2 separate regions of the Homo sapiens genome follow, and region 2 is linked to region 1. The links come from fine-mapping of genetic effects on gene expression. Tissue or cell type: whole blood. Region 1 holds a variant in brackets; the other region holds the start of a gene. All regions are shown on one strand. Distances are from middle to middle.

The links. PIP is the estimated chance that this variant, and not a neighbour inherited with it, causes the effect.
Region 2: LINC00482 starts here. The variant in region 1 is fine-mapped to the expression of LINC00482 in whole blood (TOPMed, PIP above 0.99).

Annotation. Positions count from the first base shown.
Region 1 is chr17:81,196,004-81,202,134 of GRCh38, forward strand. It overlaps CEP131 (centrosomal protein 131), which reads right to left. Exons shown (of 26, transcript NM_014984.4): 8 at 4,326-4,443; 9 at 3,716-3,832; 10 at 3,378-3,546; 11 at 2,874-2,968; 12 at 2,112-2,294; 13 at 1,709-1,885; 14 at 927-1,052; 15 at 698-823. Among named protein-coding and RNA genes, the nearest start is that of CEP131, 24 kb to the right of the region's middle. The variant G/A (reference allele first, on the strand shown) is at 2,908.
Region 2 is chr17:81,307,279-81,312,278 of GRCh38, forward strand. LINC00482 (long intergenic non-protein coding RNA 482) reads right to left here and starts at 1,970. Exons shown (of 4, transcript NR_038080.1): 1 at 1,907-1,970; 2 at 352-566. It overlaps TMEM105 (TMEM105 long non-coding RNA), which reads right to left. Exons shown (of 3, transcript NR_165247.1): 3 at 3,987-5,000. RefSeq lists an enhancer at 2,334-2,393.

The DNA of each region.
Region 1 (6,131 bases):
ACCCCTGATGGAGGAGACCCTCCCAGCCTCCGAGGGAGGCTAACAGCAGCCCTCCCCTGGGGCTGCCCCTCCTAGGTTTGTGGATGGACCCTGGGGCCAGTGGGGGGGCACGTGTGCAAACACGGGCCCAGGCCTGCATCCGCCGTCCTGTCCTCAGCTGGGGGACCCGGCGAATGTCAGAGAAGCCCCAGCCCACCCCCTGCAGTGATGTCAGGGTCTTCCTGGGATGAGGGTAGCTCTGCCGAGGCCATCACCCAGCCCTGGAGGAGGCTCACTGTCTGCCAAAGGGTGTCAGGACCACACCAGCCTCACTGCCGGCCCCAGGCCAGACCCCAGGTCAGGACACACCTGTGACAACTATCAAGCAGCCCTGGAGGCCCCTATTCTCACACACCCCAGACCAACTCTAGGTCTCTTCTCTTCAGAACAGGAGCCAACCGGGGCTGCGACTGAGCTGAGGGGCCGGCAGGACACCCCACTACACTCACACGGGGCGGCTCTGGATAAAGACAGGAGTGCCCTCTCCAGGGCATGCATGGCTGGGAATGGCATGGGAAAGGCTTGGAATGCGTCCAGCGGACACCCGTGTGACACCCAACAGAGGAAGAAGCTCCCTGGCAGTGGGAAGCCCCTGGCTCTGGAAGTCTCCATGAGCCACGCGCTGGGTCCGGGCCTCTGCGCTCCCCGGGCCGCTCACCTGGTCAATGAAGGCCAAGTGCCGCTGGATGGTGGCCTCGTAGTGCTCCCTCTGCCGCTGCAGCTGCCGGCTCAGCGCCTTCTCTGTCTCCTTGACCCGCCGGGCCGTGAGGTCTCGCTGCTGCGCCTGCAGGGTGTGGGCAGAGGAGGGAAGCGCTAGGACCGGTGGGCCTGGCCTCAGCAGGTAGGAGGCTAGCAGGGCCCGGGATTAGCAGTGCCAGCAGCGTTACCAGCGCTCTCTGCAGCAGCAGCATGGCCTGCTTCTTCTCCTCCACCTCCAGCTTCAGCCGCATCACAGACGTGCTCACCTCGGACCCCAGCTCCAGGGGCCCCGGCCCCGCCTCCGGCACCCACCCCTGCAGACACAGCCGAGCGTCAGGCGGAAGCGGCAGAGGACGGGGGGCAGCCAAGGACCTGACACGATGCCCCTGCGGCCCTGCCCTCTGGGGACAGAGGGGCTGCTGCACACGGGAGCCCGTGGGAAGCCGGAGGGCAGGTGGCAGGCGGCCCAGCAGAGGTCGTTTTCATTGCTCAGTACAGGAAATGGGGGCCGTGGCCTCAGGAATAAAAAACAAACCATTTAAAAAGTTCTATGCTGCCCAGCTTCCTGCCCTGTGACAATAAAGTTCACGTCACTGCTCCATTTAGCCTGGCCGCTAGTGTTCACCCAGGACAAACCAACCCAGAGGACAGCAGGGCTCCAGAGGGCTGAACTATCCACACATATGGGCTCGTGGAGGCAGCTCGGGGCAGCGGGTAGGTGGGGGCAGTATGGGGAATGCGGGCCCTGCCACCTCCACCCTGAGAGACCCGTGGGGGGTGCTGCATAACTAGGTGGGTACATGGTGAGGGACCACCTCCTGCTGGGGGCCGGGTGGGGGCTGGCGAGAGACCTCCTCCCCCTGGGGGCCAGGTGCGGGCTGGTGAGGGGCCTCCTCCCCCGAGGGCCAGGTGCAGGCTCGTGAGGGGCCTCCTCCCACTGGGGGCCGGGTGCGGGCTGGTGAGGGGCCACCTCCTGCTGGGAGTCCAGCTGGTCCTGCCCAGACTTCTCCATCTCGTCCAAGAAGCTCATGATGCTTTGTAGCTTGGCCTCCGATAGCAGCGTCCCATCCTCAGGAGGTTCGGGGAACGCACTGAGTTTTCCAAATTTCTCCAAGTTGTCAGCTGTCAGAGAGCTGGCGTCATCCTCCTGTGGGACAGGAGCCCAGCATCGGGGGCTGTCAGGGCAGCCTGAGGACTTGGGTTCCCCAAAGGCAGAGGTGGCAGCTGAGGCTGGGCTCTGGGAGGGAGGGTTGTGACTAAAGCCAGGAGGAGCCTGTGGCATCCCCATTTTCCCAACCCCCACAGCCACCGCATGCTCTGTGTGAATGGCGTGGGTGGACAGACTGTGCAGGGCGGGCGCACACCGTGGTCACCTCGCTGGCCCAGGCGTATCTGCCCCTGTGATGGGTCCTGGGGCGGGGCAGCACGTCCGGCTCCTTCTCCAGCAGCTGCAGTGTGTGCAGCAGCTCCTCCAGTGGCCCCCTGGACTTGGCGCTCCCCCTGCTCGGGGCCATCATCTCCAGGTTGTCCCCAGCTGCATCCTGGGCAAGAACGTCCTGCAAAAGAGCAGGGAGACAGATGCAGCAAGGCTGCTGGTAGCTGAGAGCAGCCCCCACATAGGAGGCCAACCGCAGAGCCCCAAAGGCGCCGCGGGAGCTCCCCAGTCCCGACATTCAGCCCCAGGAAGGTGAGGCCAGGGCTCAGACCTTCCCACCCGGTCTCTGCAGCTGCTCAAACCCAGAGCAGCTCCAGCCACCAGGGGACTCCTCCCAGTGCCCCACTCCAGGAAAACAGGAGTGCAGCCACCTGGCCCCACCATTGAGCAGCCTGGGAGCCTTGGCTGTCAGGTCACCCCTCAGAGCCGGAAGCTCCTCTTTTGTGGATGAGGATGCAAGGCCCCCCACCCCAGGACATCTGCAAAAACCCAACTGGATCCACCCCAGCAAAGGCTCCCCAAGAGGCAGCCAGCACCATGCATCAGAGCAAGAAGACACCTCCTGGGTGGCCTCTCTGAGCTTAAGTGGCCCCTAGAGCAGAGGAGGGGCTGGGAGAAGCTCAGCTCAGGACACCCCTGGCACAGACATGGCCCTTAAAGCCAAAAACCATGATGGAGTGAAGGACAGCTGTGCTCAGACCTGCGTCCTGTCCTCTGGAGGCTGCTGTGGTTCT[G/A]GGGATGAGTCGGAGGTGGGCAGGCAGCGGTCTCCGGGGCCTGCAGCAGGGAGGCCACCACCTGCACAGCAGAACACAGCACCATTCCACAGGGAGCATCCCGGGGCGGGCAGCAACTCTGGAGGCACCCCCGGGAAGGAGCCAGGCATGGGGGAGGCGGAGGCGACCCCAGAAGCAGAGGAGCCGCTGGGGAGCCACGGCCTTCTGGGTGTGGAGCTGTGGAGGATGAGTGCCACCCCTCCCTTCCGGGCCTTCTACTCTGTAGGGATCCCTACGTCCAGGACCATTTGATTGTCAAGGTCTCGGCACCCTCGTCAGGTCAGCTGGGGGCCAAGGCCCCTAACTCCGAGGACTGGGGCCGCCAACATGGGCAGCAGCACAGGAGGCCGAGAGGAGGTCCACAAGGGCTGCACTTCCTTCCTGGCTGCAGTCCACCCCCCAGAGCAGGGCGGGCGTGGAGCCACTCTCACCAGTATTGTTGGCCTTGAGGGCCTGGTGGGCAGTGCCGCCTGGTGTGGGGGACAGCTCCTGAGCAGGCTGCCGCATTCCTGGCACTCTGGTCTCCCTGGGATTCTCAGGTGGCCCACGCTCGGCAGTGCTCGCCTTCTGGGCTCTCAGGGCTCGTTTCTGTTGCAGCTCCTGCAGTGGGAGCATCGCTGAGCACTGTCCCTGGGAGAGGACGACCCCAGGCTCCACAGCCAAGCTGCCCTGAGGCTAAGTGTCCCGGGGCCCAGGGAGCCCCAGCAGCAGCCCCGCACGGTCAGGCCTGGGCCACGGTGCTGCTCAGTGGTCCCTGCGCGGTCAGCACCTGAATGGCTGCTCGCCTGGCTTGGCGTGCCTTCTCCTCCCGGGCCTTCCTCCTGGCTGCCTCTTTCTGCTGGTGCAGGTCCAAGAGGGTCCCCTCGCCTGACCGCTGCCGCTGCTCCTGCCAAAGAAGCCGGTGCCATGTGGCGTTTACATCTGGAAGACGGAATCCAGACCCAGACCAGAGGTTTCCCCACAACGCCCTGGAGTCCCCTAGAGTTCGTGGAATCTCAGGGCCAGCAGGGAAAGTGAAACCCCACCAGGACCTTGAACCTGCCATTTCTCTGCTCTACAGAGGATGAGCCCTACGTCGCAGGTGGCCAACAGTTCTGGCGTGGGGGAGACAGCTCTGCCCCCACAGAACGTCCTCCTGAGACTCTCCAGCCTGGGATGGACCCAGCAGGCGTTTCCTGACACCCAGGCCCTGAGGACCGCCAGTGAGGACCACCCTGACTGTCCGCGGGGACCCAGGGTCAAGAAGGATGCTGCACCCAGAGACGGGGCCCACGAGCAATCCTAGGCTTTGATTCCACCTGTCCCAGAAACTCAAACCCCTGGGATTCTGGGCCAGACCCCCCGGGGGAGCATGGAGTGACTGAGACGCCCACACTGACCTCCCGCTTGGCCTGAAGCAAGTGCTCCAGGCGGGCAGCTCCTGCTCCGCGCCGCTGCACCTGGTGCCGGTACCAGCGCTGGATGGTGACAGTGGCCTGGTTCACCTGGTGGATAAACCTGCCCGGAGAGCAGGACTCAGGGCCAAGACAGGACCAGCGCCCCGGCAGGACCCAGCTGGCTGCTGGTGGAAGGTCGAGCCGGGGAAGAGAGAAGCCGGCGGCTGCACTCAAGTAGCCCTTTTCACAAGGCAGGACCAGCCCACCTGGACCATTTTCACATGGCAGGACCAGCCGCCTGGACCAGCTCCACTAAAACCCAAAACCTTCTTCCTGGGAAGGTGCCCAGGGGAGAGGAAACGCCTACCCACGCAGGCCTGTGTGGCCTTATTTACAATTGCCAGGAAGTGGGAAGAGTTCAAATGCCCATGACCTGGCTACAGCGTGAATACTGGATGGCGGGACCCTACCCACAGGCAACAGGCCCGGGACTCAGGCCAGTGCAGACCACAGGCCGTGGCTCCACAGAGAGGGTGGTCGGAACAGGCAGGGCTATGAGGGAACAGACTGGTGGCTGCTGGCATCTGGGCGGGGAAGGAGCTCGAGGGAAGCCTGGTGGTGCTGGGCCGTTTCCTTATCTTGGTCTGCTGTGTCCACAGACAGCACTATACACCCTGGTGGAATCTCATGGAACTGCACACTTACAATGGGCACCTTCTATTGTATACAAATTATACTAAGTAAAACTGATTAAGCAAAAAAAAAAATGCTTCACCTTGGCTCTCGGGACCATGTGTGGATTCTCTCAGCAAAGGCACTAACAGAGAACCCAGAACGTGTGAGCCCTAGCTCGGGAGCAGTCTGCCCCGGGCAGAACTGGGGGGCTTCAAGGGGTTGCGGGCTTCTGGTCCCCCTTCCCTCGTGCCACCCACCGCGTCTACAGGCCTGGTCTCCCTAGCCCTAACTGGGCGGTAGGGTAGGTGACGGCTCCGCCAGGAGCAGGCTCCGAAAGTCCAGGCAGGGAGGTACCCCCGCGACTGTCCTGACAAGAAACGACTGTCATGGTCACAGGAGGCTCCGCCCACAGCCCCTCCAGCTCCCCAGGGGCAAGCGGCAGGGGCACAGCCCCCAACAGTCATCATCACAGGAGGCTCCGCCCACAGCCCCTGGAGCTTTGGGTGTTGTTGGCTTTTTTCAGTTCTGTATCTTCTTTGCCTTTAATGTTGTTTTAATTAACAGTTTTACTGAGGTACAATTTCCATACTATAAAATCTACCCATTTTCAGTGTACAAGTCAATGATTTTTAGCAAATCTAGAGTTGTGTGACCATCAGCACAGTGCAGTTCTGGAATGTTCCACTGCCCCTGGAGGAGCCCTCTCTGCCACCCCTACACCAGCCTTCGACCTCCTGTGATAAACTTGCCTTTGCTTGGTGTTTTATGTAAATAGAACCACACCACATGGGGTCTGCTCGGTCTCAATATTTTAAAACAGGCCGGGGGTGGTGGCTCACGCCTGTAATCCCAGCACTTTGGGAGGCGGAGGCGGGCGGATCACGAGGTCAGGAGATCGAGAACATCCTGGCTAACACGGTGAAACCCCGTCTCTACTAAAAATACAAAAAATTAGCCAGGCGTGGTGGCGGGCACCTGTAGTCCCAGCTACTCGGGAGGCTGAGGCAGGAGAATGGTGTGAACCCGGGAGGCAGAGCTTGCAGCGAGCAGAGATCGCGCCACTGCACTCCAGCCTGGGCGACAGAGCGAGACTCTGTCTCAAAAAAAAAAAAAATTAAATTAAAACAATTATTA
Region 2 (5,000 bases), 110 kb after region 1:
CACGAGCACCGGGCATGGTCCTGTGACTACAACCTGAGCAATATAAGCAGAAGGGCTGGGCCGACTTCATGGCTTGCCAAAAGACCCTCCCCCTCCCCCTCCTCCTTCCCTTTCTCTTCCCCCTTCCCCTTCCCCTTCTCCCCCTTCCCCTTCCACTCCTCTTCCCCTCCCCCTCCCCCTTCCCCTTCCCCTTCCCTTTCTCCTTCCCCTCCCCCTTCACTTTCCCTTTCTCCTTCCCCTTCCCTTCCCCCTTCCGTCCCCCTTCCCCTTCCCCTTCCTCTTCCCCTCCCCCTTCTCTGAATCAGGGTCTCACTCTGTCACCCAGGCTGAGGTACAGTGGTGAGATCATACCTGGGACCACAGGTGCACATGGCTAATTCTTGTATTTTTTGTAGCGACAGGGTTTTGCCATGTTGGCCAGGCTGGTCTCAGACTCCTGGGCTCAAGTGATCCACCAGCCTCGGCTTCCCAAAGTGTTGGGATTACAGGTGTGAGCCTCCATGCCCAGCCCCAGCTGAAAGCTTTTCAGTAGTCTTTTACCTTCCCTCCTTTCTCCTTCCTGCTGCCTGGAATGCAGATGCAATGGCTGGAGCTCCTGCGGTTGCTATGGAACCATCCTTGACTTCTCCCTTTCAGTCACACCCCTCATCCAATCTATCGGGAAATTCTGTTGAGTCCATGTTCAGATATCCACAGCTTGGACCACTTCTCCCCACTTCCTGTGTCTCCACCACGATCCGGGTTATCTCTCTCCGGGATCGTCATGTTCTCCTCACTTCCGTCCTGGCCTCCCCATGGTCTGTTCCCACCCAGCAGCCAGAGGGTGAGACCATGTCAGCCTCTGCTCAAACCCACCCTCAGCCCAGGTCCTCACAGGCACCCTGCAGGATGCGCCCTGCCTCCCCTCGGGCCCTCCCAGCACCCCCTAGCTCACTGCCTGGCAACCCCACTCCTGCTGGTGGGCCTACAAAAGCTCTGTAGCATTTGCTGAGGAACAAATGAAACCTGGACCCCAGGGATGGAGGCCGTGGTGGGGGGGCACCATGGAGAGGGGGAGGCACTGTAGAGGTGGGGACACCGTGGAGATGGGGGGGGCGCCGCCCCAGCCCGGCTGCCTGCCCACCACCCATTGAGCAAGCCTCTGGTATTTAAGCCACTGTTTGATTTAGGGCCCAATGAACGAAGCCAGCCAATAGCAATCTCTCACTGTTACCCTCTCCATTTTATAGATGGAGAAACCGAGGCTCAGAGAGGCAACGCAGTGTGCTCAAGGCCACAAGACTTCTAGGTGTGGGCCTGGGCTGCATGCAGGGTGAAGGTTATCATGACCCCCAAGCTCAGGGCACCCCAGGGATGCAGCTCTGACCCCTGCCCTGAGGATGGGACACTCCAACCCTTTCTCTTTTTTTTTTTTTTTTTTGAGACGGAGTCGCACTTTGTTACCCAGGCTGGAATGCAATGGTGAGATCTCAGCTCACTGCAACCTCCGCCACCTGGGTTCAAGTGATTCTCCTGCTTCAGCCTCCGGAGTAGCTGGGATTACCGGCATCTGCCACCACACCCAGCTAATGTTTGTATTTTTAGTAGAGATGGGGTTTCGCCATGTTGACCAGGCTGGTCTCCAACTCCTGACCTCAGGTGATCCGCCCGCCTCAGCCTCCCAAAGTGCTGGGATGACAGACGTGAGCCACCGCACCCGGCCAAACACCCCAACTCTTTCTGCTGCATTGAGTCCAGCAGGGTGCCCTGAGGGACTGGCCCCGGGGACATTTTCAGCCACTTTAGGGAAAAGAAGACGTAATGCTCACACTAACCGCCCCACACCCGACTCCAGGCTGGCCTGGCGCCATACCCTCGGGGTCTCCAAGAGAGGCAGGGCTGGTCCCCACCCACCACCTCCCCTCACCTTGGTCTTGGTGTGTGGAGCCCTTGGCCAGGTCCCAGGCAGTCGTGGGTAACACCGCAGACGTGTGTTACCCAGGGCGGGGCCCCTGAGAGCTGGGGTGGTTCAGAGCCCGTCCCCACTCCGGGAGCAACGTCAGGGCGGGGCGGGGCTGGACGGACAATGTGACCTTTGCAATGTCCCCGAACAAGAACTGCAGATGGTAATCACGGCCACCAGGAGGAAACTTCCTCTGAATCTTCCACTACCGTGGTGTAACTAGGGAGGGTGTTGGAGCATTCAGCGAGATAAAAAGCCTGCTTTTGTCTACACTTTTTCCGTTTTCTAAAAATTCCAGACACAAGGGGAGAGCTGCCCAAACACAGAGGTGGAGAGGAGCCTGTCCGGACACAGGGACACAGGCAGCTCCGGCAGTGACCACTTGGGCCTCAGAGAAACTCACAGGTGGCCACTACTCCTGTTTGGAGCTGGAGGCAGATCATCTGGGGCGCCTCGGGGTAGGGAGGAGCTGGTGGACAGCACGCCCCACTTCTTCCCCAGCCCCTCCAGGGGGAGCTGCCATTCCGCAGCTGGTCCACCCAGCCCCAGGAAGGGGGAGGCTCCCCAGGACAGTAGCCCAAAGAGCAGAGGGTCTCCCCGAGAAGGTGCACCCCAGGCAGGGCTTATCCACATACCACTAGGCTGGGGGCCCTGCTCCGGGGGGTTGGGGTGGCTGGAACCTTAGATGGTCCCATCCTGTTGGGGGGCTTCCTGGGCCGCTTTGCTGCTCCCAACTGTGGAAGGTTCTCTCTTGCCTTCCCTTTCCTGCTGTTAGAAGCACCCCAGCCCCTCCAGGCAGCCCCCAGGGCCCGAGTGATGAATCACTGACTTCTTGCCAGGCTCCGGTCGTGATGCGGGGTGGCAGAGGGATGTGGGCAACGCAGCTGGGAGTCCCGGGGCACAGCCGGGCTCTCTCCAGGCTCCCCATCCAGCAGCTGCGCACCCCCCCAAACACACGCCGGGCTCCCCGCACCCGGAAGCTGCCCACAACCGGCAGGACAGGTCGGTGGGCCCCGGGGAGGAATGCAGGAATGCTGCGTGCCCAGGCGAGGGGCCCTGCGCCCGCCCAAGGGGCTCTCCAGCTGCGCAGGGGCCGGGGCGGATGGAGCCGGGGTAATTAAAGCTGGTGACAGCTGAGGAGGGATAGAGACAGGAACACAGGTGGGGTCCCAGGCCCCTCCGCTTGCTCCCCAGGCAGAGGGCTGGAGCGGCCCCCAGGAGAGTGCCACCTTCGTGGGGCAGGAAGAGAAGGTTGCAGGGGCACTGGGTGTCAGTGGACATTGAGGTCTAGGAGAGGCCAGCTCTCAGCTGCAAAGGGCAGGCAGAGTCACCATGTGCCGGGCCTGGCCGGGCCCTCCCAGTTCCCATCCAGACACCCAGACACCCAGACACCCAGACACTGGTCTCGTCCAGGCCATCACGTGGTCAGGAATGGTGTCTGCCTTTGATAGGTGAGGACCCGGGTGCTGTAGGATCTGCTGCTCTAAATGAAGGCAGGCGGTGCTGCCCCAGCGGGAGGACAGCAGCTCCAGGCCTGACAAGGCTCTAGGCCTCAGCTTCCTTATCTCTCCCGAGCCCAGGTTGACATCCCTTTCCCACCTTCCACAGCCAGAGGACTAGACAAGTGTCTTCACCGGAGCCTCGTTTCCTCATCTGAAATATAGCGCTAACCACCCCTCCCTCCCGTGGCTGTGGCAATAAATTAAATGAAGCCCACAGAGGACCTAGCACACAGTACGTGCTTAATCAATACAGAACCCCTCCCCCAGCACTGCCCGCCCTTCCCCTGGAAGCAGCCACGCTTACCTCCACCACCTCCTCTCCATGGTCATCAAACACTCGTGACAGGCCGGCCTCCCCCTGCTGAGACCCTGAGAGGTCCAGGCCTCTGCTCCTCGTCTCTGCCACGCCTGGTGTCATGAGGGTGAAACAGGCCCTTGGGGGACGTTCGGACTGGCTTCCTGTGATGGCCGCCAGCATTAGTAGCGTTGTTACTGCTGCCTGGACACACACAGACGCCTCACAGAGCAATGCAACATGTGGGTGAAGTTTTCAGATAAAATCGGAGATTTAATAGAATTCCCGCAGGGTGCTGAGCTCCAAACCCAGGCCACACATGGCACACGCAGGGCCTGTCAGGGCTGGGGCTGATGACCAGGGTCAAGGGGATCCCAGGGCCCTCCAGCTCTCCCCCAGCTCCTGATGTGGAGGGGAGGGAACTCCCGCTCACCCCCAGAGAGAAGGGAGTCCACACACCGCATCTGAGCTGGCGGTGGGCAGGGTACCCACCTCGGTGAGCAGCCTGGGGTGGGCCTGGGGTCAGGCTGAGGTCCCGGTGACAAAGGCTGGGGAGGTGGATGCAGACAGCCTCCACTTTCACCATGGCCTCCCTCCTCTGAGGCCAGGCCTGGGATGCTTCTGCCCCACAGCTCCGGTCCACCTGCCAGGCCTGTCCGTCCTTGGATGAGGGCAGGGAGAGGTGGGGTGGCCACTGGCAAGTAGAGACTTCAAAAGTGCACGGTGGCCCTTCCACGCCCTTTGCTTCTTAGCCCCCAACCCTCTGCCAGGCTTTCTCCCTTTTTCCCACGCCCCGCACAGACAGGTATCCTGCCCTCAGCATCTCACAGGGGTGAGTGGCAGCCAGGAGCAGCAGCAGATGCCTGTGGGGAGATGAGACGCCCTCAGCTCCCAGGCCCCGCTCCTGGGGAAAAACAGGGCCCCAGGAAGGTGCCCCAACCGTTCCTGGGGGCCCCAGCCCCGAACAGGGGGTCTTGAAAGGGAACTCTTGTGTGGTGAGTGCCCCCTGAGGGCTGAGCCACAAGGTCACCTTGATTTCTCAGCGGACGGAGGCTGAGCTGGCTAGGGTTCCAGGCTGGGTGTGGGAGGGTCACCCCAACAGGCGATGCCCGAGAGGTGTCCGGGCCTGGCTTTCCACGAGGAAGAACCAGTCCCCTGTGCCATCTGCAGGGCTTGCCACACAATCTGGGGACCCGGTGCAGGAGGAGAATTCCTGGCCACTTGTTTAGGAGGCAGGAAAAGGGCCGGGCGCGGTGGCTCA